Linked DNA regions of Homo sapiens. The protein of the gene in region 6 purifies or fractionates together with the protein of the main gene of each other region. This does not show direct contact. Each region holds a gene or a part of one and is shown on either strand. Other genes may lie near its edges. The genes, in order: PAEP, PCDHGB5, MKLN1, COPS4, MIER1, KLHL13 and ZMYM4.

What was found.
Region 1: the proteins of KLHL13 (region 6) and PAEP purify together in Homo sapiens (co-immunoprecipitation; one large-scale study listed by IntAct). This does not show direct contact.
Region 2: the proteins of KLHL13 (region 6) and PCDHGB5 purify together in Homo sapiens (co-immunoprecipitation; one large-scale study listed by IntAct). This does not show direct contact.
Region 3: the proteins of KLHL13 (region 6) and MKLN1 fractionate together in Homo sapiens (co-fractionation; one large-scale study listed by BioGRID). This does not show direct contact.
Region 4: the proteins of KLHL13 (region 6) and COPS4 purify together in Homo sapiens (affinity purification with mass spectrometry; 2 studies listed by BioGRID and IntAct, with this or other methods). This does not show direct contact.
Region 5: the proteins of KLHL13 (region 6) and MIER1 purify together in Homo sapiens (co-immunoprecipitation; one large-scale study listed by IntAct). This does not show direct contact.
Region 7: the proteins of KLHL13 (region 6) and ZMYM4 purify together in Homo sapiens (affinity purification with mass spectrometry; one large-scale study listed by BioGRID and IntAct). This does not show direct contact.

The regions. Positions count from the first base shown.
Region 1 is NC_000009.12:135,560,495-135,564,555, forward strand, and holds the start of PAEP (glycodelin isoform 1 precursor), read left to right. Parts: upstream 1-1,261; 5' UTR 1,262-1,307; coding exon 1,308-1,403; intron 1,404-1,799; coding exon 1,800-1,939; intron 1,940-2,325; coding exon 2,326-2,399; intron 2,400-3,749; coding exon 3,750-3,860; intron 3,861-4,061. UniProt on the Homo sapiens protein: Glycoprotein that regulates critical steps during fertilization and also has immunomonomodulatory effects. Four glycoforms, namely glycodelin-S, -A, -F and -C have been identified in reproductive tissues that differ in glycosylation and biological activity.
Region 2 is NC_000005.10:141,400,947-141,404,446, reverse strand, and holds part of PCDHGB5 (protocadherin gamma-B5 isoform 1 precursor), read right to left. Parts: intron 1,670-3,500; exon of another isoform or gene 1,495-1,669; coding exon of another isoform or gene 1-1,494. Other genes in the region: PCDHGA9 (protocadherin gamma-A9 isoform 1 precursor), read right to left, coding at 1-1,494. UniProt on the Homo sapiens protein: Potential calcium-dependent cell-adhesion protein. May be involved in the establishment and maintenance of specific neuronal connections in the brain.
Region 3 is NC_000007.14:131,330,876-131,334,375, forward strand, and holds part of MKLN1 (muskelin), read left to right. Parts: intron 1-3,500. UniProt on the Homo sapiens protein: Component of the CTLH E3 ubiquitin-protein ligase complex that selectively accepts ubiquitin from UBE2H and mediates ubiquitination and subsequent proteasomal degradation of the transcription factor HBP1.
Region 4 is NC_000004.12:83,045,183-83,048,682, forward strand, and holds part of COPS4 (COP9 signalosome complex subunit 4), read left to right. Parts: intron 1-443; coding exon 444-523; intron 524-3,500. UniProt on the Homo sapiens protein: Component of the COP9 signalosome complex (CSN), a complex involved in various cellular and developmental processes.
Region 5 is NC_000001.11:66,955,990-66,959,489, reverse strand, and holds part of MIER1 (mesoderm induction early response protein 1), read right to left. Parts: exon of another isoform or gene 1,432-3,500; coding exon 1,270-1,431; intron 640-1,269; coding exon 507-639; intron 1-506. UniProt on the Homo sapiens protein: Transcriptional repressor regulating the expression of a number of genes including SP1 target genes. Probably functions through recruitment of HDAC1 a histone deacetylase involved in chromatin silencing.
Region 6 is NC_000023.11:117,900,562-117,903,810, forward strand, and holds part of KLHL13 (kelch-like protein 13), read right to left. Parts: intron 1,386-3,249; coding exon 1,272-1,385; intron 1-1,271. UniProt on the Homo sapiens protein: Substrate-specific adapter of a BCR (BTB-CUL3-RBX1) E3 ubiquitin-protein ligase complex required for mitotic progression and cytokinesis.
Region 7 is NC_000001.11:35,355,709-35,359,208, forward strand, and holds part of ZMYM4 (zinc finger MYM-type protein 4), read left to right. Parts: intron 1-3,113; exon of another isoform or gene 3,114-3,216; coding exon 3,217-3,500. UniProt on the Homo sapiens protein: Plays a role in the regulation of cell morphology and cytoskeletal organization.

The DNA.
Region 1 (4,061 bases), on a different chromosome or scaffold from region 6:
AAGACTTGGCCTCAAAAAAATGTATATATGTATATATGTGTGTGTGTGTGTCACACACATGTCTATAGCTACCTACAAAATATCTTGCTGAGAATTTGATAGGAATTGCATTAAATCTCTAGGTTGAGTTGAGGAGAGCTAACACCTTTGCTGTGTTGAAGCTTCCAGCCCATGAACACATTGTGCCTGTCCTTTACCTTAGGTCTTTGATTTCCCTTCCTTGGGTTCAGAGTTTAAGTCCTGTCCATATTTGGTGAGATTTTTGCCTACATGCTGTGTGTGTGATTACAAATCCTGAATTTCCAGTTTCGGGTTCTGTCTACTCCTTGACACTGTGTGGGAACACGGTGGATTTTTGTGCGATTGACCTTGCTGACCTCACTCGGTTCTAGGAGGGGTTTTGTAGAGTTCTTGCAATTTTGTACCTGGGCAATGATGTTATATGCGAATAGAGACAGGTATACCTCCCCCTTCCCAATCTGCCTGCCTTTAGTTACCATTTCTTGCCTAGCTGCTCTGGCCGGAATGACCTGCTCTGATGGATGGGGGAGTGGGAGTGGACACCCGTGTCTTGCCTCAGGACTCAAGTGCTCTCCAGGGAGTGAGATGCGGGCTCGATTGTAAGTTACAAAGTGATGCTTCCCTGTGGGAAAAAGTACATCCAATATAGACTGTAGGACAAAGTCTGAAAGTCCACTGCCTCCCATTTCCACCCAGTCTTGCCTGTGAGTCAGAGAGAAACAGTGCTAACAGGCAGTGTGCACCTGTCCAGAGGCTGGCTGTTTGAGGGACACAGGTGTGCACACCTGGGGATGTCTGAGTGGAAGGTACAGGTCAGGATTATGACCGTGCAGTCAGTCACCCACTGGCATGATGTCTGTGGCATCCTGGGGCAGCCATGGGGCTCTCAGGCCCTCTGCCTGCCCCACAGGCCATACCCCTGCCCTGGACACAGCTGTCCTCAGTGCTGGCCTCTGACCCAACATTGTCCAGGAGCCCCAACCCAGAAGGTGCTCCCGCCGCTGCCAGCCTGGACCCGACCCAGGCCCCTCCCGCCTGAGGCCCTGCCAAGAACTGCCCAGCCCGGACACAGAGGAGGTTCCCGCGTGGACGCAGGGAAGAGCCTCCCATTGCCCCAGTGGAGGAAGCTGCCCAGGGGCCAAGGATGAGTCACAGGTTCGAGGAATCACATGGCGAGGCTGTGGGCGGGGATCTTGTCTGCCCTCCTCCTACATAAGGCCCCCTGAGCCCACACTGCCTCAGCATCCCTCTGGCTCCAGAGCTCAGAGCCACCCACAGCCGCAGCCATGCTGTGCCTCCTGCTCACCCTGGGCGTGGCCCTGGTCTGTGGTGTCCCGGCCATGGACATCCCCCAGACCAAGCAGGACCTGGAGCTCCCAAAGGTTTGAGGCTGGGGGAGCGGGCACTTTACTGTGGGAGGCCTGGGGCGGGTGGGAGCTGCGGGCAGGCAGGAAGCCCAGGATCTCAGAAACCTACAGGAAGCACAGAATGGACGCCATGACGTCAGGAAGCCCTCAGCCCTGCTCTCCATCTTTAGGGTGGCCTCTCTGGTTTCCCAGCATCCTAGGTGACTCATTATTTGGACTTTGGAACACTCCTGAGTTAGCACACACTGGTCATTTTAAGTACAGGAAATTTCATAGCCCAGGATCTGGTAGATAGCAGACAACCATCCAATGCTCACTGTACCCATCCCAGTTAGACTCAGCCCCGTCTGCACCGGGTGCAACGAGAGCCATGGTGGGGTGGGACCGCCGTGCAGCCCAAGGCCCCCTCAGTTGGCAGGGACCTGGCACTCCATGGCCATGGCGACCAACAACATCTCCCTCATGGCGACACTGAAGGCCCCTCTGAGGGTCCACATCACCTCACTGTTGCCCACCCCCGAGGACAACCTGGAGATCGTTCTGCACAGATGGTGGGTTTCTCATCATTGAGACGGGCTGGGCGGGGGCTCAGTCTCCCCCCTCAGGGGTCCAGGACTGGGTGGGTTGGGCGGAGCTGGACTTAGCCCCAGGCATTTTCTGACAGCCAGGGGCTTCACTGTGGCCCTTCCATGAGGGTGGGGTGGAAAACCAGGGCTCCAGACGTTCCCTGTCCCCTTGGATCCCCTGCCCCAGGCTCTGGGCCAACAGCCAACCACACAGTGCAGCCCCAGGTCAGACTGAGGAGAAGGTCTGGGCGGCTGCGGGCTGCGGTGCTCCTTGGACCCGGGGAAGTTCCCGTGGTGACCTGATTTTAGGAGTGACAGTGAAGGCAACTCCAATTCAAGTGGCCACTCATCCTATTGTCACCACCTTTCAGGGAGAACAACAGCTGTGTTGAGAAGAAGGTCCTTGGAGAGAAGACTGAGAATCCAAAGAAGTTCAAGATCAACTGTGAGTGTCCCCAGGCCCCAAGGGCTGGCTCAGTGCTGGCATGCTAGCCACGCTCTCCCAGAGGCGGCTCTGCTGGGGCATGAGGGAGTGGGGCCTGGCCTGTCCCCACTCTCTCTGCTTCAGGGAGTCAGAGTGTTTACTCCGGTCAACCTGATGCTGACCCCAGAGGCATCTTTTACCTGGAGGGCAGGGGAAGCACTAATTCTTGGCATGACATGACTGGATGTGGGTCTGCACTGTGCCCAGGCACAGGGGACAGGTGCTTTGTTGCACTGTTCACTCTGGCCTCACAAAAGGCCAGGGAGGCTGCAGGCGAGCAGGTGGGCAGGTGGGCAGGTGGGTAGGTGGGTAGGTGGATATGTATACAGGTGGGCAGGAGGGTAGGTGAACAGGTGGGTAGGTGGGCAGGTGGCTAGGTGAGTAAGTGGTTAGGTGAACAGGTGGGCAGGTGAGCAGGTGGTTAGGTGAACAGGTGGGCAGGTGGGTAGGTGGGTAGGTATACAGGTGGACAGGTGGGTAGGTGGACAGGTGGGCAGGTGAGTAGGTGAACAGGTGGGTGGGTGAACAGGTGGCCAGGTGAACAAGTTGGTAGGTGGGCAGGTGGGTAGGTGAACAGGTGGGCAGGTGGGCAGGTGGGCAGGTGGGCAGGTGGGCAAGTGGCTGCTGTTCCCGTGGGCCTGGCTGCCTCCTGCGCACTCTGGGGCTGCAGCTCTGGTCTTAGGCTGAGCTCCCAGGCCTCTCTGGGGGAAGAGAGAGGGGCTTACAGCATGTCCTTGGTCCACTGAATTCTTCCTAACAATTTGCAACATTTTGTTCTATTTTGTTAATTATTATTTTTTTAAAAAGACAGAGGTGGTCAGGGTCTGGGGCCTCTTATCCCCTCATGGGCACATTTTCCCAGCAAATACAGTTTGCTTCTCATGCTTGGGACTTGCCTCAGGCCTTTCTGACCCTGCTTGCCCTCCCCAGAATCGAGCCACTCTCCAAGGTCCATTTCTTCTCCCTCTTCCCGCCCCTGTGCCCTGTTCCTGTGCCATCTCCCGCCATCCTCACCCGTACGTGACTTCTCAGTTGGAGTCTCTCCAGGTCACAGCCTCCCTGCCTGCCGTGTCTGCCTCTCCACGGCACACCTGGCCTCTCCCCCTCAGCCGGGGCTCCATGGCCCTCCACATTGCCTCTCCTCCCCTTTCCTCCCTGGCTTCCCTGATCATGGTCCACAGCAGGGGCCACGTCCCATGGTGTCAGTGGATGAGGAAGCCACTTAGTGTGGTGGGATGTCCACACACCTGCACAGGACTCTGCTGAGACGGAGGCTTCATCTTCCTTTTGGTTCTTCTCTTCTTTCCCCAGATACGGTGGCGAACGAGGCCACGCTGCTCGATACTGACTACGACAATTTCCTGTTTCTCTGCCTACAGGACACCACCACCCCCATCCAGAGCATGATGTGCCAGTACCTGGGTGGGTCTCACAGCACATGAGCTCAACGTGGGTGAGAGGCAGCAGCTACGTCCGTGGCTGGGAACCCTGGGGAGCTGACAACTGGCTTCCTGTCCACCTCGGTGCCTGTGGGCTGACTTTTTTTTTCTTGGTTTTTTTTATTTGTTTGTTGTTTGCTTTGTTTTTTTGAGAAAGGGTCTCATTCTGTCACTCAGGCTGGAG
Region 2 (3,500 bases), on a different chromosome or scaffold from region 6:
CCCTTGGATGGTATCCTCTGCCAAGGAGTAAATAACTCTAGAATTCTCATTGCTATCAGGGTCATAGGCAATCACGGAGAAGATGGAAGTACCTCTGGCGTTGTTTTCCGGGAGGTAGACTGAGTAGGAGGCTTGAGAGAAAGCAGGTGGATTATCATTGATGTCAGTCACTTGCAGGGTGATGTGAATTTCTGTGGACAGGGGCGGAGTTCCTCTGTCTGTTGCAGTCACCGTGATATTATATTCTGAGGCTTTTTCTCGGTCAAGAATTTGGGCCGTCAACAATCTGTAATAATCTTCTTCTGAATTTTCTAATGTAAAAGATAGATTCTCCTGGATAGAACAGACAACTTGACCATTCTTCCCGGAGTCTCGGTCATGAGCATTGAAAAGAAGAATTACTGTTCCCTGAGGTGCGTCTTCTCTCACTGGGCTAAACAGAGATGTAATGGTCACTTCAGGTCTATTGTCATTTACATCTTCCACCGAAATGAGCACTTTTGTCCACCCTTTCAATCCCCCACCATCTTCAGCTTGTATTTCCATTTCATAAAATGAACATTCTTCATAATCTAGACTTTTTGCTGTTGATATTTCCCCAGTATTTTCATTAAGCTGGAATAGCAGAGATTGTTTTTCATTAATTTTCCAGAATTTGTATGCCACTTTTCCGTTGATTCCCTCATCCAGGTCGCTGGCTGTTGCAGTAAGCAGCCAGGTGCCTGGGGGCACGTTCTCAAGGACTTTAACTCGGTAAATCCGTTGAGCAAAAACCGGGGCATTATCATTTGTATCCAACACTGTCACATGGATGCGCACTGTGCTGGAGCGACGCGGCTCGCCGCCATCCGAGGCCGTGAGGACCAGGTGGTGGGCAGTTGCCTCCTCCCTGTCCAGGGCGCGCTCCAGCACCAGCTCTGGGTTTATGGCTCCATTGTCTCCAGTCTGCACGTTCAGGGAGAAGTGGTGATTGGGGCTGAGCTGGTAGCTCTGGAGGGAGTTCACGCCAACATCCGGATCAATAGCTTCTGGAAGTGGATAACGTGCTCCAGGAACCGCGATTTCGTTAATTTTTACTTCCAGACTTTCGGCCTGGAACTTTGGGGCGCTGTCGTTAATATCAGTTACTTCTATTTCTATTCCGTACAGTTTCACTCTGTCTTCAACCAGGACTTTAAAGTTCACCAGACACCGCGGGCTCTGAGCACAGAGCTCCTCCCGGTCTATCCTACCCGCGGTGACCAAGGTGCCGCTGCGCGGGTTCAGAGAGAAAAGCTGCGTCCTACCTCTAGAGACGATGCGGACTCGGCGCTCCGCCAGCTCCCGGGGCTCCAGAGCCAGGTCCTTGGAGATGTTGCCCACAATATAGCCCTTTTCTGTCTCTTCAGGCACTGAGTAGCGAATCTGACTGGCCCTGGCCTCCCATAGCATCCCCAGGAGCGAGCATAGCAGGACTAATCTTCCGCGGAGCTGGCATTTGGTTGGAGCTGCCATTGCTGCCTCGCTTTGGAATTTTCTCAAAAGGATCTCTGTGCGCGCTGCTTCATCAGGTTCTTTCTTCCACCCTGCAAAGTATGGTGATCTTTTCCTTAGAAGAAAGAGGCTGAGTTTTGCTGCAGCCTGGGAGCAGGTTTGTGGTATCTGCCGGGTTTTGTGTAGCCGCAGAACTGGAAATCCGGATGGAGTCCTGATTTTCGCTTAGAGTTGATCAACAGCGGCGCTCAGAGTCCTAAGCCGTTACTACACCCACTGATGTGTAACATTATATCAGATGGCTGATAAAGAAAACACTACTCTCTTCTAATTATGATTTTAGATTTCTCCAATTGTTTCTTGCATTTGTATTTCAAAAGCAATCTATTTTTTAGATATCTGAGTTGTAAATAAAGTGGAATAAAATTTCTGTAAGTGTATTATAAAATCACAAACCATTGCTTAATATTAATTTATTCTTATTCTTGGTAGAACTTTGCACTCTATTTCTAGATATGTAAACTATTATAATTTCCTTTTTATGATGCTTCAATTTTTTCTGTGTATCTTAACAATTTTCTGAAGTAATTTTTATGTGCAATCTTGTTTGGAAGTACATTCATTTTTAATTTTTATACCTATATATTTGTAAATGTAAAATATATAATTGTATTAATACATATATAAGGATAGATTATCCACTTTGAAATTATTTTCTGGGGTTTATTTTGATGATAAAATTCCTGGAAAAACGTTTATTTTAAATTTTTGTATTATAAAAGTAATATTAATTCAGCAATAGTTACAGATGTTCTCGCCTAATATTGCTAAATATTAACAGGATTAAAGTTGGAAATTTTCACATTTTTGTAATTGCTTAAACTTTTCTGCTATTTCAAAAATGCTTAGTTTTTTAATGTGAATATGTAATGCATGCACAGACTGTGTTTCAATGATTCAAATGCATATACACTGAAAAGCAAGTTTCTATTTTAATCCTTCATCAATAAATTATGCAATTTTAAAGTGGTCTTAAACATTATTCTAAGCATCACTTAAACTTATATAATAATTTGGGAAAAAGAACACAAAATATACAACAAAGAAAACTACTGAAAGGTTAAAAGTAAGTGGTATTATAAGAAATCTCAGCACTTTGTAAGGAACCCATTTACTGAATCACATACTAAGGGAAACCAAGCAAAAGACTTATACCATGTAATGGGAGCTTTGTATGTACACAAGACTAGTAGTTTTTGTCTTAAAAATGGAATAATCCTGTATTCACCTTCCATCCTACAAGGATGTTGAGAAAACATCCAGTCATTTATATTTAAAGCTCCAAACGATAAGACAAATCCGGTGTCTTTTTCCCCTTCTTCAAGAATATGTCAGGATTCCGAGCAAGAGAAATTCAGGCAATAGCATTTCCTTTTTTTTGTAAGTTTCTTCTGGTAATTATATAGAGGTGGAAAAGGATTTTGCATCCAAGAAAACCTGGATAAACTTAGAAAATTATTTGGATGATTTGGACCTTCTAAGTTCAGTGAATCAGTCTCTCTCTTTCTCTCTCATACACATAACATGTAGTATTTTTCTTCTTCTTCCTCTCCTTCTCCTTCCTTTTTTTTGAGATGGAGTTTTGCTCTTGTTGCCCAGGCTGGAATGCAATGGAGTGATCTCGGCTCACCGCAACCTCCACCTGCCAGGTTCAAGCAATTCTCCTGTCTTAGCCTCCTGAGTAGCTGGGATTACAGGCGCCCGCCACCACACCCAGCTAATTTTTGTATTTTTAGTAGAGACGGGTTTTCACCATATTGCCCAGGCTGGTCTTGAACTCCTGACCATGTGATCCAACCGCCTCGGCCTCCCAAAGTGCTGGGATTACAGGCATGAGCCACTGCACCCAGCCAACATATAGTATTTTTAATAAAATTTTAGGAGATTCAAAAAATCATAAATCCATTAGGTAGGAATAAGAAAGCATATATGAGGAACATAAGAAAGAGATGAAAACTACCAGTGAA
Region 3 (3,500 bases), on a different chromosome or scaffold from region 6:
ACATTTTTACTTTGAGACTAAAAAAAGGCCTTTTATTTTTGTGTGCTTAGAGATTGCCTGTATTTTACTTTTTTTCTGAAATTTACACCTAATTTAATAATTAAATACACTTATTTAAATAATTCATAAAATTACATATACTCTTATACATAAAAATATTTTGTAAACTGCTAATCCCTGTACTCAAATGTTTATTTTTGTATCTAATAATGATGCTAGTTACAATTTAGTGAGCACCTAATATATGCAAGATGCTTTTTGTATACAGTTTTGTTTAATTCTTGGTACATACCTGTAAGATAGGTATTTTATATATGTTTTGTGGAGGATGAAACTGAGGTCCATACAGGGTAAGTAGCTTGCCCAGGGTCATATAGTTTTCCAGAGGCTTGCCAGGTTTTCTGACTTAAAAACTATTGCATTGTGACTTTAATAACAGTCACCACTTATTGAGTACTTTCTATTCTTCAGGCACTGTACTGAGCATTTAGCATGTGTTCTTTGATATAATAGTCTTCACAAAAACCCTATGAGATAAATATTATTATTCTATTTTAGAGCTAGGAAAAGTGAGATTTAGGGAGGTAAGTTAACTTGCCCAGGTCTAAGAGTTGAAAATGTAAGAGGGGCAGGGCAGGGTGGCTCACACCTGTAATCCCTGCACTTTGGGAGGCCAAGGCAGGAGGATCACTTGTGCCCAGGAGTTTGAGACCAGCATGGGCAACACAATGAGACCCCATCTGCAATAATAATAATGATGAGGAGGAAGAAAATGTAGGTGATAAGGTTCTCATATTGGGCCTTTTGACTTCTGTTACGAAAGCTGTTCATTATTATACATGGCTATTGTATATGTCTAATTGAGATTACAGATAAGCGCTCTAAGGTTAGAACAGCAAGAGAGGGAAAAATAGATTTTATCTTGATGTTTAAGATTTTAGTATACTCATATGAGAACTGGGAGAAACTTTGAAAGTATTTTTTACATATTAGGTAATTTCATTGGTATAGAATGATTCTTATCTTGTTTACATATTATTGAATGACTTAGATAATTTAGATGATAAAATCTGATAGATTTTTAAGTGTGTTTACCTTTTTCCTGTTAGTCTTATTACTTAAAATCAAATAGTACTTAAAATAGTACCTTGTGTCAACATGTGATTGATTCATGGTTCAGAGTACAAGTGTTATGATTTGACAACTAGAATAGAAGGTGAATTTATTTCAACTCTTTTCAAAACTAATTTTAAAATTTCACATTTAAAAATGAATATAGGCTAGGCACGGTGGCTCATGCCTGTAATCCTAGCACTTTGGGAGGCTGAGGCAGGACCATCACTTGAGACCAGGAGTTTGAGACCAGCCTGGGAAACATACCCCATCTCTACAAAAGAAAAAAAATATATAAATATTTATATATTTTTATTACATAAAATATATGTGCATAGTTATATATTATTATGTTAAAAATATGTAAATATATATATATTCTTTTCTTCTTTGTCTCTACAAAAGAAAAAGACAGCATCTCGTCAATACCCCATGTCTAAGAAAAAAATAGACACTTTTTATATCATATATATTAAAATATATTTTATATATCTTTTAATATATATTTTGATGTAAAAAATGCTCTATGTTTATTATCGAATATTTGTAAAATATGGACCCACAGAAACAAAATTTAAATTACCCTTGATATCACTACCTAAAGATTACTAGTCACCCTTTAAATACTGTTTATTATCATTCCAGATCTTTTACTGTAGATGTATGTATTTTTCAATTTACTGTTGTCCTGTTTGCTGTTCTGTATTTGCTTTTTCCTCCTTAACATATAGTAAATACTTCCTTATGTTATTAAATATTCTTCTATATTGTATTTTTTTTCTTTTTTTTTAAAGGGACAGGGTCTTGCTCTGTCACCCATGCTGGAGTACAGTGGCATGATCATAGTTCACTGCAGCCTCGACCTCCTGGGCTCAAGCGATCCTCCAGCCCCAGTTTCTCAAGTAGCTGGGACTACAGGCACATGCCATCACGCCTGGCTAATTTTTTTTTTTTAGATGGAGTCTCGCTGTGTCACCCAGACTGGAATTTAGTGGCACCATCTTGGCTCACTGCAAACTCTGCCTCCTGGCTTCAAGCAATTCTTGTGCCTCAGCCTCCTAAGTAGCTGGTATTACAGGCGTGCACCACCACGTCTGGTTAATTTTTGTATTTTTGGTAGAGACACTGTTTCACCATGTTGGCCAGGCTGGTCTTGAATTCCTGACCTCAAATGATCCACTTGCTTTGGCCTCCCTAAGTGCTGGGATTACAGGCATGAGCCACCATGCCCAGCCAACCATGCCTGGCTAATTTTTTAAATTTTTTTGTAGAGATGGGGTCCCACTATGTTGCCCAGGCTGGTCTCCAGCTCCTGGGCTCAAGTGATCCTCTCACCTCAGTGCCCCAAAGTGCTGCGATTGTAGGTGTGAGCCACTGTGCCCAGCCAAAATTTATTATGGATACATTATATTCCATGTAATGACTTTATGTCATTTTGTTTAATTGGTCCCGTGTTATTAGACATTTAGGCTTTGTGGTTTTATTTTATTTTCATTTGTGTTTCTTGTTATTTGACTATTATGAGTCATGAGGTAGTTTTGCTTTACAGAAATTTTTTTTTTTTTGAAACGGAGTTTCGCTCTTATTGCCCAGGCTGGAGTGCAATGGCGCAGTCTCGGCTCACCGCAACCTCTGCCTCCCGGGTCCAAGCGATTCTCCTACCTCAGCCTCCCAAGTAGCTGGGATTACAGGCATGTGCCACCATACCCAGCTAATTTTTTGTATTTTTAGTAGAGACGGGGTTTCTCCGTGTTGGTCAGGCTGGTCCCGAACTCCTGACCTCAGGTGATCCGCCCACCTCGGCCTTCCAAAGTGTTGGGATTACAGCCACCACACCCAGCCTGGAAAAAAATTTTGAACTCATTGGTGATAAATTCCTAGATGTTGAGTTGCTGGATTAAAGGTATCAGTTTATTTTCCTTCTATCTGTGTAGACTACTCTGAGTTCATTTTGGCATTATCCTTGGTAATTTGGAAGAAAACATATTTAAATCAGAGACAGGTCCGTAGAGATGTCTAGAGGATGCTTATATAATTCAAAAGTGATAATGCTCCCAATAACTTTTTTGTTTCTTCCTTCTCTATCCCTTTACTTTAGCTTTTAAGTGAATTTTGATTTTATTAATCACATATAGTTGAAAAATAGAATATATTTATTGTATTTGGTGTACAGATAATGGTGGTTATGAAAATGGATTTGAGGTCTTGTTACAATAATTCTGTAGGCTCCTGCAACCCAGAATTTGTGAACCACTAGTTTGGAGGCATGCAACTCCCAGGAGACCGGATACTATTATGCCCTTCCTTTTCTCCCTTTTCTCCCTATCTTAAACTGAGATTTAAGGACACTGGCCCTGTTTGGGAACCTTACTGGCCACTGAAAGTTC
Region 4 (3,500 bases), on a different chromosome or scaffold from region 6:
ATTCAGGTCACCTCAAATAATGTTTTTGTGTGTCTATGTATTGCACAGTTGAAGGAAATATAGCTTATCTTTTAAGGCATTTGAAAGGAAATTGACTTTGTAGTTTAAATTCAAAAATAAAACCTTCAAGAAAAAGTGACACCTTAGATTCAGTAACAGAATTATAGATTCATTCTTTCTTGTGATGAGCTTGAAAACTTAAAAAATTCTGGTATACTATACTGAAAACTAGATGAAGTGGTACCTTATATAATTATAGATTTAATATCTCTTGTGATAGACTAGAAACTTAAAAAAAAATCTGTGGTATACTATAAAGAAAACCACAAACTATAGTACTATGAAAGAAACCAAGGTATGTAGAAATGAATAAATACACATCAAAGTTTGCATTAGAAAATATAGTACCCTCAGAACATTATTTTCATTTGGTATTGTTGTAGGTATCGTCAGATCCTGGAAAAAGCCATTCAGTTATCTGGAGCAGAACAACTAGAAGCTTTGAAAGCTTTTGTGGAAGCAAGTAAGTGAAATGGAAATTTCATGCTTGCCTTGTATTACTGAGCTAGGACTTTAAAGTTCTCTCAAGCCTTGTTTTGTATCAAATTATCAATATTAAATATGCATTGAGATTGATTGATTTTAGAATTTAAACTGTTTACAACTTGATTAATTTTCAGTGAATTATCTTCAGAATTACAATCCTAATTAAAGTTTTGTATGTTTATTGTTATAATAGCTGATAAGGGACAATATAGCATAATAGTAAAGAGAATAGTTTGGATTCAAATCCTGGTATGCTATTTTATGAGCTGTGTGATCTTGGGTCAATTATTTAACCTCTCTGTGCCTCCTTTTCCTCTTTAAAATGTACTCTGTAGTACATCTAATGTACCTAAAATGTACTCTATAGTACATTACTGTACTACAGGGTAGTACAGTACTGTACTTTGAGAAGTGTCTGCTTATGTCCCTTGTCAATGTTTTAATGGGGTTGTTTTCTTAATGTTCAACATCACTAATCATCAGAGAAATGCAAATCAATGTGGGATGCCATCTAATATTAGTCAGAATGGCTACTATTAAAAAGTAAAAAAATAACAAATTCTGGTTAGACTTCAGAGAAAATGAAATGCTTATACACTGTTGGTGAGAATGTAAATTAGTTCAGCCACTGTGAAAAGCAGTTTGGAGATTATTCAAAGAATTTAAAGCAGAAGTACCATTCAACCAGCAATTCCATTACTGAGTATATATCCAAAAGAAAATTAAAAATTCCACAAAAAGAAACCCCACATGCACTTGTATATTCGCCATATTGCTATTCACAATAAGGAAGGCATGGACTTAACTTATGTGTGAATCAATAAATTGGATAGAAATATGTGCCACATATACACCATAAAATACTACGCACACATTAAAAAGAATACAATCATGTCCTGTGCAGCAACATGCATATGTCTGTAGGCCATTATCCTAAGGAATTTTATAGTGAGTTCACATGGAATTTTATAGTGAGTTCACATCATTAATGATATCTGATAGTGCTTTACAGTGTGTTCTCACACACATTACCTGTCACATAGGCTCCTTTTAATAACCTGTGACTAGAACGTATAGGTACAGGTATCCCTGTATAATATATTGTAAGACAAGTCTCAGGATTGAGTAACTTTTTTTCAAGGACATTTAGCTGGCAGAGCCCAGATCAGAAACTAGGTTTTCTGATACACTGCTCTTACTTGCTTATATTTCCCTGAGTAATACCAGCTTGTATGGTAACTTAAATGCCTAATGACACTTGTAATGAAACTGTTTTCTCAGTCACATCCTGTATTACCCAATAATGAATTCCAATTAATATGTGATTAATTAATTACAACTGCCTTAAAAAAATACTGCCTTAAAAAGTTACTGCCTTAAAACTTAAAAGGTTACTGCCTTAAAAAATCATGGCCTCCGGTGTGAGATAAACTAGCAATGGTTTCCAAAAAACTGTTAGGAGTGGTTTATTAAGAACTTTGCACTGTAGTAGCAGAAGAATAATGCTTTTTATAACTTTGATCTTGGCTGGGCACGGTGGCTCATGCCTGTAATCCCAACACTTTGCGATTACAGGTATGAGTCATGGCACCCAGCCAAGGGATCACTTGAGCTCAGGAGTTCAAAACCAGCCTGGGCAATGTGGAGAAATCTCGTCTCTACAAAAAAATACGAAAATTAGCCTGGCGTGGTGATGCATGCCTGTAGTCCCAGCTATTGGGACGCTGAGGTGGGAAGACTGCTTGAGCCCCGGTGGTCGAGACTGAAGTGAGCTGAGGTTGCATCACTGCGCTCCAGCCTGGGCAGCAGTAAGATTGTCTCAAAAAAACAATTAAAAAACATATATATATATATTTTTTGATCTTTGTATAAGCTTTGAATCCAGTAAACCACCAGGAAAAGCAGTCTACTGTTAAAATCATTTACATCAACTGAACAGTTTTTGAATCACTTATTTTCATATTAACTGCTGCTTTAAGACTTGAATAATTGGCCGGGGCCATGGCTTACGCCTGTAGTCCCAGCACTTTGGGAGACCGAGATGGGCGGATCACGAGGTCAGGAGATCAAGACCATTTTGGCTAACACGGTGAAACCCTATCTCTACTAAAAATACAAAAAAATCAGCTGGGCGTGGTGGCGGGTGCCTGTAGTCCCAGCTACTCAGGAGGCTGAGGCAGGAGAATGGCATGAACCCGGGAGGTGGAGCTTGCAGTGAGCCAAGATGGTGCCACTGCACTCCAGCCTGGGCGACAGAGCGAGACTCAGTCTCAAAAAAAAAAAATAATAATAATAAAAAAGACTTGAATAATTTATCTAAGCAATAGTTTACAAGAATGATGCATTTAAAATGATAGTTATAATAGTAACATTTGTTGAGTGCTATGTACCAGGTATTGTTTAAAGTGCTTTGTGTATATTATTGCATTTAAGCTTCATAACAACCTTATGAAATAGATGTTACACATGAGGAAACAGAAGCACAGAGAAGCATAGAGAAGTTAAGTTTCTTGTCTGAAGTCATATAATCAGTAGTGGTAGAAGCAGTGTGGCTCCAGAGCTTAATCACATAAAATAATACCTCGTAAATGTTTATAAATAATGTCAATACATCTAGTGCTCACTGAAGTTCTTATTTATTGTTTTTATTGGGAAAGTATAAGTGGCAATAACTGTACTGGCAGCACTTGCTTTATTTAAATTTCATGAAAATTATTTTACTGTTTTCTTTTTTAACTCCTTTTTGGAACAAGGTAGGATATAAGCACATAAATAAAAATATAGGTGTTTTTGTGCCTTCACTTTGTAGAAAAATGAGATAAAATTATCAACTTTTAAAACTTTTTTCAATTATTTCTGTTTCTTAGAAAAGTTGTGTTATTTTTACTGTTTTTTAAGATTTTTTAATTAATTAATGAATTAATTAATTTTGAGACAGAGTCTAGCTCTGTTGC
Region 5 (3,500 bases), on a different chromosome or scaffold from region 6:
TTCTACATAATTGTATTCTCATGAAATGATTTCCTATAAAAACTTAGGGGAAAAAACTGATTTAGAATAAAGATAATATTATCTTACTACATATTTCATGACAGTTTATTTTTCTTCAAGTGTTTTTCTTCCTTTTAAAGTAGAGAAATTTAGGTGTATTTATGAATATACCTAAAAAAGGCTAAGAGGCAAAGAAAGTAAAAAATGGAAACTAAGGGAAAGACTATGAGAAACAAAAAGATGACCATGAAACAAACATTTAAAAACAGGGCAAAGAAAAAACAAATACACCCAAAGTCAAGTAGTACATGACACAATTACCATAGTATATTCACTAACAACAGGGACCCTGCATTGCTAAACTAATAACTTACAACAAAATCCATTTACTGTTGAAAAGAATTTCAGACTAAATGAATTCAAAGACCAGTTTAAAAAAGAGGATTTTAGGTAATACCTAAAATAGTAAAAATTATATTCAAATATTATCAACCAGTAACACTTACTTGTATCAAAATATTTACATCGACGTGGGCGGATTATTTCCTGGGCATCTTGAGAAGCAACAGATTGTGATGGATCATCATTGGAAGACTGAGTTTCATCCTCCTGACCTGATGAATCCTTTATATTCTCCTCCTGTGGAATAATAAATTAAATTTCTCTAAGATGTAAGGAAAACAGTTGCAGATGAAAGACCATAGCATATAAATTTTGTTCTAATATATGCAGAAGACTAAAATGAATATACTAGATGTAGTATCATCCTCTGGGTTGGTTCCTGCAACAGGAAAAAGTACATTAGCAGAAAAACTGGTATAATTCAATCTGCAGTTTAGTTAATAGCACTGTACCAAGATGTTAACCTTAGCAGAAGTTGAGGTAAGAGTATACAGGAACGTTCTATACTAACTTTAAACCTTTTATAAATCTAAAATTATTTCAAAATAAAGTAAGAAAAATAAACACAAACTGCCAATTAGCCTTTATTATTTAAAAGCAATAGCATTTTTTTAGAAAGTTGGTATAAATTAATTAGAATAAGCACTGGAAAAAAAGAAACCTGAAATGACAAGACCAAACTGTTACCTCAGGAGTAAATTACAGGGGATTTCCAATTTTTATATTATGTATTTCTGTAATATCTTAATTTTTAACACTTTTAAAATCAGGAAAAGATTATAAAGACAAGTAATCAAAATATATTAAGCAATTTTAACTTCAACAAGAATAAAGACTACAATCTTAAATATATGTATATAGACTTACTTTATTTTCCCCACTACAGCCACTGTTGTCATCATTATCAGCATCTTCATCATCTTCACCTTCTTCTTCCTCTTCTTCCTCTTCCTCATCTTCTTCAGGTAGTCGAACAGTACTACCATAACCATAAAGGCTGAGAAGTTCATGAATTGGCATGTCGCCTTCCTAAATAAATCAAAATAAAAGGTAATCTCTGAATCAGTGATATTTCTGATTCCCAGGCTATAATCCACAAATCTGTGGAGTATTCATTCTATAGTGAAGAATAAAAGCTGTGTTACGAATTCTCGGATCATAAAAAGTAAAACTGAAAATATTTCTGAAACCTAGGAATATCCCAATCTTTTAAGTATTTCTATAAAATGAACCAGTTATAATTGCTGACAACAAGATCTTTAAGTATAATTAAAAAGTGGCCTTGGTCTAACATGGACTATTCTTTTTGCAATCAATTCAGTATATGCACAATGACAGTTAACGCTATGCATGGATGCCCACTCTTAATAAGAGTACCATACTTAACTTGAGGGTGGAGAAATAGAACAATGAGAAATAGACTATAAGTTAACAAACCCAGAAAGGCAGACGAAAATTCAGAGCTCAGCCCGAACACATGAAAAAAAAAAAAAAAAAAAACACAAACAAACCAGTAGTAATATACAGAAATGATAATGGACTACATTAACCATATATTCTTCTCTATGGTTATCTCCATTTACATATAAAATCATCTCATGAAATCCTTACCATCTATCATACGGACTTGTTATATTATTTCCATTTCATAGATGCGAAAACAGAGGCTGACAGGTTAAGCATTTCTTCACAAATCACACAAGTTACAAGTAGTAGAGCCAGATTTAAACAGTCTAACTCCAAAAGCCCATATTCATATCAATACACCATGGTGCCTTGGGCAGGGACTTCCCTCAATCCCCACAAAAATCAGACCCTCCGTGGATGAAAAAGAAATGTCCATACACAATGAAATGAAATCAGCTTTCTATACAAACTACTCACTCTAACCAGTAAACAAGAAATGCACAGCATCAGGGAAACATAACAGAATTCTGATTATAAAAAGAAAATTTAATCCAAATCATGTGAACATATTATACACTCATGCACACCCACATACAATGCACATGGTCTGAAGCAAAACAGTCAGAAAACAATCAGTTTAGAAGCTAGAAAAAAAAGGGTAATCATGAAATAAGACATGGTTTATGTTTCTCCAGCAGTCATGGAAAGAAGTAAGTCTAGCTCATGTGTTAAACACATTGCTACAATGGATATGGGTAAATCAGACTGGATTAGATGATACAATTAACCTGCATCACTCAAAATCCATGTGTGGGAAGAAATTAATGATTATCATTTGAAAAGATTTTCTTAGGAAGAACTAGGAAGAAACTGTCATCCAAAACTTCTATTTCCCATTACAAATGGATATTCTGGTTATGAATGAGTTTGTGAATCTATTTCTGAAAGATAAATCAATTCCAAGACCCCTAATGATTTGCAGAAGCTACAACCTGAAAAGCGGTAACTTTATCAAGGCAAGGTATTGCCACTCTAGCTAAATAACCAGCTGGCAAACAAATGACAGCTCTTACACTGTGTCTCTCAAAGTACAACACCAACAGTGCTTTAAGTGTTCAAGTATCTGGTCCATGTACCAAGAATCTGGTACAGGACATTGGTATTTGGGAATCTGGAGAGTCAATACTCAGGAACTAAAACAAAACTTCAAAATAAGAGATAGAAGTGTAGTAAGAGAAATATAATGAAAAGGCTAGATTTATTTTTTGAGACAGGATCTTGCTCTGTCACCCAGGCTGGAGTGCAGTGGCATGATCACTGCTCACTGCAGCCTCAACCTTCAAATGATCCTCCCACCTCAGCCTCCCAAGTATCTGGGACTATACATGTGCACCACCATGCCTGGCTAATTTTTGTATTTTTCATAGAGAAGGGTTTCACCATGTTGCCCAGGCTGGTCTCAAACACCTGGATGCAAGCGATCTGCCCACCTTGGCTTCCCAAAATGTAGGATTGGAAACATGAGCCACCGTGCCCAGCCTAAAGCTAGTTTTATATACAAGAATAACAAATAGCTGTCATAAAGTATCTTCTATGTGTCAGGCATTTATGATAGATGCTTTGATTTCACTGTCTTTTTCTCTTGCAACCATGAAAGCAGTGTCAACACACACAATTTCATTAGATCTTTA
Region 6 (3,249 bases):
TGGCTCTTCCAATATAAGACATTCTGTAGTTGCTCATGAATTTAACACCAGAAACCTGCCAATCATATACTATAGGCCTTTCATTGATTCTTATTGATTAAAAATTTCATAAGGCAGTGGTCAATCAGGTCACAAATAGTGCCTTTACACCCTTGGTCTCTAGTAATGTAACTGCTGGCCTGGCACTGGCAGGCCTTCATATGGGGAAGAATTGTCCCAGGCAGAGTGTGTCAGGGCCAAATGATAATAACCTGACTAACAAAGTTAAATGTCAATACCAGAGGTGGTCATTACATTAAAGTGAGACTTCTTCCTAAATTCTACAGGAGAATGAAAGCAGAAAATGCATTAAAAAAAGAAAGAAATTCTACAGTAGATTGATTTAAACACCAACAATTTGAGAATGAAAGTTGCTACTGGGACACTGTGAACAAACTATAGCCATTTCAGAATTTTTTAACAGAAAAATATATCTTCATGTGCATAAAATACAGATAATCAGCACAGAAATATTTATGCAATGACACCATAGTAGAATCCCCCTATAATGCTAAGGAAGAAGGAAACCCATATTATGGACTATACTGAAAGAGAGAATGAACATTATTATGTACTATTATGCATATTGGAAGCACGTTTTATGCATAGGAGAACTTATATGTTATATAATGATACACTCCTTCACATAGTTTAGCTAAATCTTAAATAAAATGAATTAATTGTTGCTACAGAAACTATGAATGGTGTTTATCAGAATACAGAGCATGGGGACTGGAAAGCAAAATTTGAATGCTTTCCAATTTTTTCTAAGTTATACCTTACAACAGGATTGGTTTACTAGTACTCTTATAAATTTACAGAATGCCCAAGACATTCATATGCAAATACACACAAAAATAGTTTCTAAAATCAACATAAATTATATTTTGATTCTCCGTTTTTCTGGATTTTTTTTTTTTTTGAGATGGAGTCTCGCTCTTTCACACAGGCTGGAGTACAGTGGCGCAATCTCGGCTCACTGCAACCTCCGTCTTCTGGGTTCAAGAGATTCTCCTGCCTCAGCCTCCCAAGTAGCTGGGATTACAGACGTGCACCACCACACCCAGTTAATTTTTGTATTTTTAATAGAGACAGGATTTCACCATGTTGGCCCGCCTGGTCTCAAACTCCTGACGCCTGAATTATTATTATTATTACTACCACTATATGGAAAGATAACCATATAGTTAAAAGCTTATATATTATATTGTGTTCACATGATACTTGTTTACCTGAAATATACATCACTCCTCCATACACAGTTCCAGCATGGCCATAGTGGGGCTCACTCATTTTGGCAACATAGGTCCATTCATTTGTTCTTGGATTGTAACATTCTACTGTGGCTGTTAAAAAAAAAAAGAAAAGAAAATTATTTTTAACTTCAAATTTAGCAATTAATTATTTTTCTCTTAAGTGGAACAGTAATAATATCCAAACACTTGAAACATATCTATTATAGCTATGATAGATATGTGTAAGACTTTGGGGGAGCTCTTACAGTAATTATTGAGACTATATTAATAATATAAACCATTAGTACATGTTACATTAGACTAGATAGTGTAAGAATCTAACAAATTTCTGTCATTGCAGAAATCACTAAGATTTATTCTGTAATCTGCTTACATATTTATAATTTGACATTTCTCCATTTTCTTTGCTCTAAAAACATAGGAAGAAAGGATGAAAAAAATCAAAAGAAATGAAAAACTCCTCAATTCTGGGTCCCCATGTTGATAGAAACAAACGTTAATACATAAGAAGCAAACTTTTACATTGAGAATGAAAATATACACACTTCTTGGTTTATGTTCTGAAGCCCACTGCTTTAATTCATATACAGACTACAAAATGGACACTGATAATAATTTCTCTACATTTATACTTTAAAGCTAATAGTTCGTATATACCCACCATCATTGCAGCCAGTACTACTCTTAACCTGAAGATGGTTGGCGGCATAATATGAAGATCTTTATTAAGAATACTTCCTGTCAGTAATGTATTTATCATCTTTTAACATAATGTATTTTGGAGAAGTGACCTCAACTCACTTAAGTATCTTTCAATCAGTCTGTTATAACCTCAAGAACAGAACAATGTCACCAAGAAAGATGGAAAATGTAATCACTTTTTAAAAGGCAGAGAAGCTGTTAAGAGAACTCATCAAAAGCATGAGGTCTAGATTGACTTGAAAAGTTCATATTATTTATTGCAGACACTGCCAACTGCTAATCCAATTTCTTGCGTCCCCCAACCCTACTTTTTTAAACTAACAGAACCACAACACTGCTTAGGGAAGCACTACACCAAGCTAAAAACGAAATTTAATTTAGCAGGTTCCCTTGAAGCTTTGGTCCACCATATGATATAGTTCTGGGCAGCGACGGGTAAGCAGAAGTTTATTGAGTAGGACAATTTGATCAAGCCACTGGAATTAGGTTTAGCTACTTGCAACCAAATGCAATCCTGATGAATCAACCTTTGAATGAGATTCTCTACTTAAAAAAAAATAACATGGTGACAGGCAAAACACACACACACACACACACACAGAGAGAGAGAGAGAGGAGAGCGAGAGAGAGAGAGAGAGAGAGAGAGACTACTTTTCCGCTCTATTCAATAATTTCATTTCATCATCAAATTCACTACGCAAAGTATGCTTTTCTCCTCCAAGCACACCTATATCATGCCACTTCTTGTATCTCTCTACTGACTTCCTTTTCCACTTACTTTAGCTTTGAATTTTCAGTCTTATTTCAAAGGCTTTTACTATTCTCATTTTTACCTACTGCTTTGTTGGCTTTGTTCATTGCTTTAGGCCTGGATCCTTGCCAATTCTATTTCTTTTAAACCCTATTTCTAAAATTAATAACAAGTTAAACTGCCACATGCCCCAGTACTGTTGTTTTTTTTTACTATTTCCAGTCACTGGATGCCTTTTCAAATGTTCATTTCTATTTGCCTTTGGCATGACTTTTACCTAACGGACAAGCAAAATCCTACATTATTATTCTCTCTCTCTCTCTCTCCTTCTCTCTCTCTCGCCACATAAGAGAAAACCTAGTGCATTGATTGGTACTTGGCATTAGCAAAGCCATTAATGGGAAGCTTTTAGAAGTAATTAAACCACACATCCTATCAGAAACGGGGTCTAAAAAGACTTCCAGATATCATCTTCATCTGCTTGAAGCCAAAGACAGGATT
Region 7 (3,500 bases), on a different chromosome or scaffold from region 6:
TTTTGGTCATTATTAGAAAGGCTTGTCTCTGCGACTCAAAAATAATTCTTCCATAGTTTCTTTAATATTACTAAAATAATTCTTCCGTAGTTTATTTAATATTACTGTTTTATTTCTTTATGCCTAAAACTTAGATACATCTGTAAAATTTTTTGATGTGAGTTAGGGATCTCATTTTTCCATATGACTACCCTTTTCTTCAAATACTATATCCTGAATTTAAATGTAATGATAAGGGGCTGGGTGCAGTGGCTCATGTCTGTAATCCCAGCAGTTTGGCAGGCTGAGGTGGGCGGATTGCTTGAGCTCAGGAGTTCAAGACCAAACTGGGTCTCTACAAAAAATACAAAGATTAGCCAGATGTGGCGGCATGCGCCTGTTATCTCAGCCACTTGAGAGGCTGAGGTAGGAGGATTGCTTGAGTCCTGGAGGCGGAGGTTGTAATAAGCTGAGATCATGCCACTGCACGCCAGCCTGGGTGACAGAGCCAGATCCTGTCTCAAAAAATGAACCAACTAACTAAATAAATAAGTAAATGTAGTGATATGGAAAGTTGCTTACAATATTACTTCTTAGTATTGACTTCTCATGCACTATAGAACTCATTGTTCTGACTACATAAAACACCTAATTTTTCATTTATGAAAAATTACAGAGCACATGCTATGTGGTCAGCTACTAATGATGAAACGTTGAGATGGCTCACCTGTAAGTTCTTCAGCATACATCTCCTAAGATTTTAGCATCTGTTTTACTATCTGTTGTCTCAATTGATTATTTTAGAAAGTATAGACAATTTTTCCAATTATATTATTGCCTCTACGTTTATTAGCAAACGTTCTTATGATAGAAACAAGCTTTTATCTCCTTCCCTTTGACATTATGGACTCAAATCATTATTTACCCTCATACTGTTTCTAATTTTCTGTTTATTTTTTCTAGCTCTGTGAGGAGGAAGAGTCATAGCTATCTCTTTCATCATTTTATCCCTAGAACCTAGTGCAATACCTACCACAGAGTGGTTTCCTAATAAATATGTACTGAATGAATGAATACTTCAAGCAGTGGGGAGCTATTGAAGAATCTCAAGGGAGGATGTAATGTGAAATGATTTATATTTTGGAAAGGTAATTCTGATGTCATTATGGAAGAGAGCAACTTGAGCAAAGCTCAGAAAAAAAAAAGAAAGAAACAGGGGGTTGCCCTGTCACATCACCCAGGCTGGAGTGCAGTGGCACAATTATAGCTTGCTGCAGCCTCAAACTCTTGGGTTCAAGTGATCCTCCTTCCTCAGCCTCCTGAGTAGCTAGGACTGCATGTGTGTACCACTACACCTGGCTGATTAAAACAAAATTTTTTTTTGTAGAGATGGGCTTTTGCTATGTTGCCCAGGCTGGTCTTGAACTCCTGGCCTCAAACAATCCTCTGGCCTCAGCCTCCCAAAGTGCTAAGATTATAGGTGTGAGCCACTGTGCCTGGTCCAGGAAAGCTTTCCTTTGGGTTCTGTATCAGTTGGGACCTGATTACAGATAATCCAACTCAAATCAACTTAACAAAAGGAATTTATTGGATTCCATAATCCAGAGAAGGGTTGAAGAACCAGCCACATGAAGGATGTAACTGGGCTTCAGGAACAAATAAGAGCAAGGATGCCAGTGCCACTAATATTTTTAGTCTTCGCCTCACTCTATTTTTATCAGTTCCAGTTTGTTTGCTGATGTATCAATTAAATGTGGTTTAGGCATAGAGTTTATAAGGGTATGGTTGCTTCCTGAGTATCCATGTGGACTGAATTAGTATACCTTTGAAGGTATTGTAGAATCCAGGAGGAGACGTGGAGTATTAGAACTAGGTGCTAAGTGGAAAAGATGGATTTGAGAGAGATAAGTAATAAAGTTGACAGAATTTGTCCAGGGGGAAATCTTGAGCAACTGCTGGTTTGGTGAATCTGTTAACCATCTGAGGGAAATATAAGAAGCATATGCTTGGAATGGGAGGGAACATGATGAGTTTTGATTTTAGAGATGCTAAGTTGGAGAACGTGTAGGAGCTAGTTGAATATAGACATCCGAAATCTTATAAGAAAGGTCTAAGCTTAAGTGCTTAGGAAGTCAGTAGCAAAGGTAAGTGTTATGGAGGTGAACAAAATAGCTCAGTCTGAGTGTAAAAGTAAAGAGAACAGGAATCTTGCAGAAAAGCTAACATTGAAGCCATGTGAACAGAAGAAGAGTATAAAATAAATTATAAGGCAATTAAGGAAAGTAAGAAATAAGAGTACCAAAGAATCCAAAGGAATTTTATCCATGAGGGATATGCCATTTAGGAATTGAAAAAAGTCAATTTGCTTTGACCATTAGGAGATCATTGATGATGTTAATGAGAAAAGTTCCAGTGGAAAGTTGGGAGCTGATTGTATTAAGCTCAAAGGGTTAATGATAGAGATGAAGTAGAAGCAAACTAGGTAGAATTTTTTTCCTACAAGTTTGTGAAGGGAAGATGAATGAGGGCATTGTAGGGTTAGGGCATGAATGAGGGCATTGCTTTGTTTTGTTTTGGAATGGGAGAGATTAGTATATATTAGTAGTTTTAAACAGTAAATAGTCTTTTATTCTAGGTTGGATAAAATTTATTTTTATGTGTAAGTATTAACTGCCGTCAGTGTTTATTAGTGTTAGTGCAGAGAAAATGGGACTCAGACCAAAGACCTGAGTGCTAATCTCAGTTTTCCCTGAATAATCGCCATAATAATTATAATTACCATTTTATATTCCCTTCTATTTGTCAGTCATTGTGTTAGTAGGTCTTTTGTACATACTATCACTAATCCTCACCACAAATTTATCTCCAAGGTGAGTATTATGCTGTTGTATAGATAGACTCTGAGAGTTTACTTTTTAGGATTACATAGATTTTCAGGATCATGCTTTGATTTCAACACAGATATGTCTGATTCTGAAGTTGGTGCTCTTTTCTCTATATCACGTAGCTTTCTTTTCTAACCTAAAGTAGTTTCTCAAGTTTTGGCTCCTTGTTTCCTTAACTGTCAGATAGGAATAGTTATATCTGTCACACCTATATCAAAGTGTTAAATGAATACTATGGTAATATCTGTATTTTGTTTGAAAAAATATTTATTTGGTTAAATACCAGACTGACCTTATCATTGTGGTCATCTTTAGCACTATCATTTGTCTAAACAGTATTTTACTTTTTAAGGTGGTGGTATCATGGATACAGAAATGTCTGAAGATATAGACCACAACTTAACTCCTACCCTTGACAGCATGTCTTATGGAATGCCGAATCAAACAGGATCTGAAAATTCATTGCTGGATGAAGATGATTATTTTTTGAACTCTGGGGATCTTGCAGGAATTCCAGTCGTTGGTAGTGACAATGAGGATGAACAGGATTTTAGTTCAAAGGACAATCTTGTTTCTTCAATTCATACTGATGATAGCTTGGAAGTAGAGAGAAGAGTCACACAGCATGAATCAGAC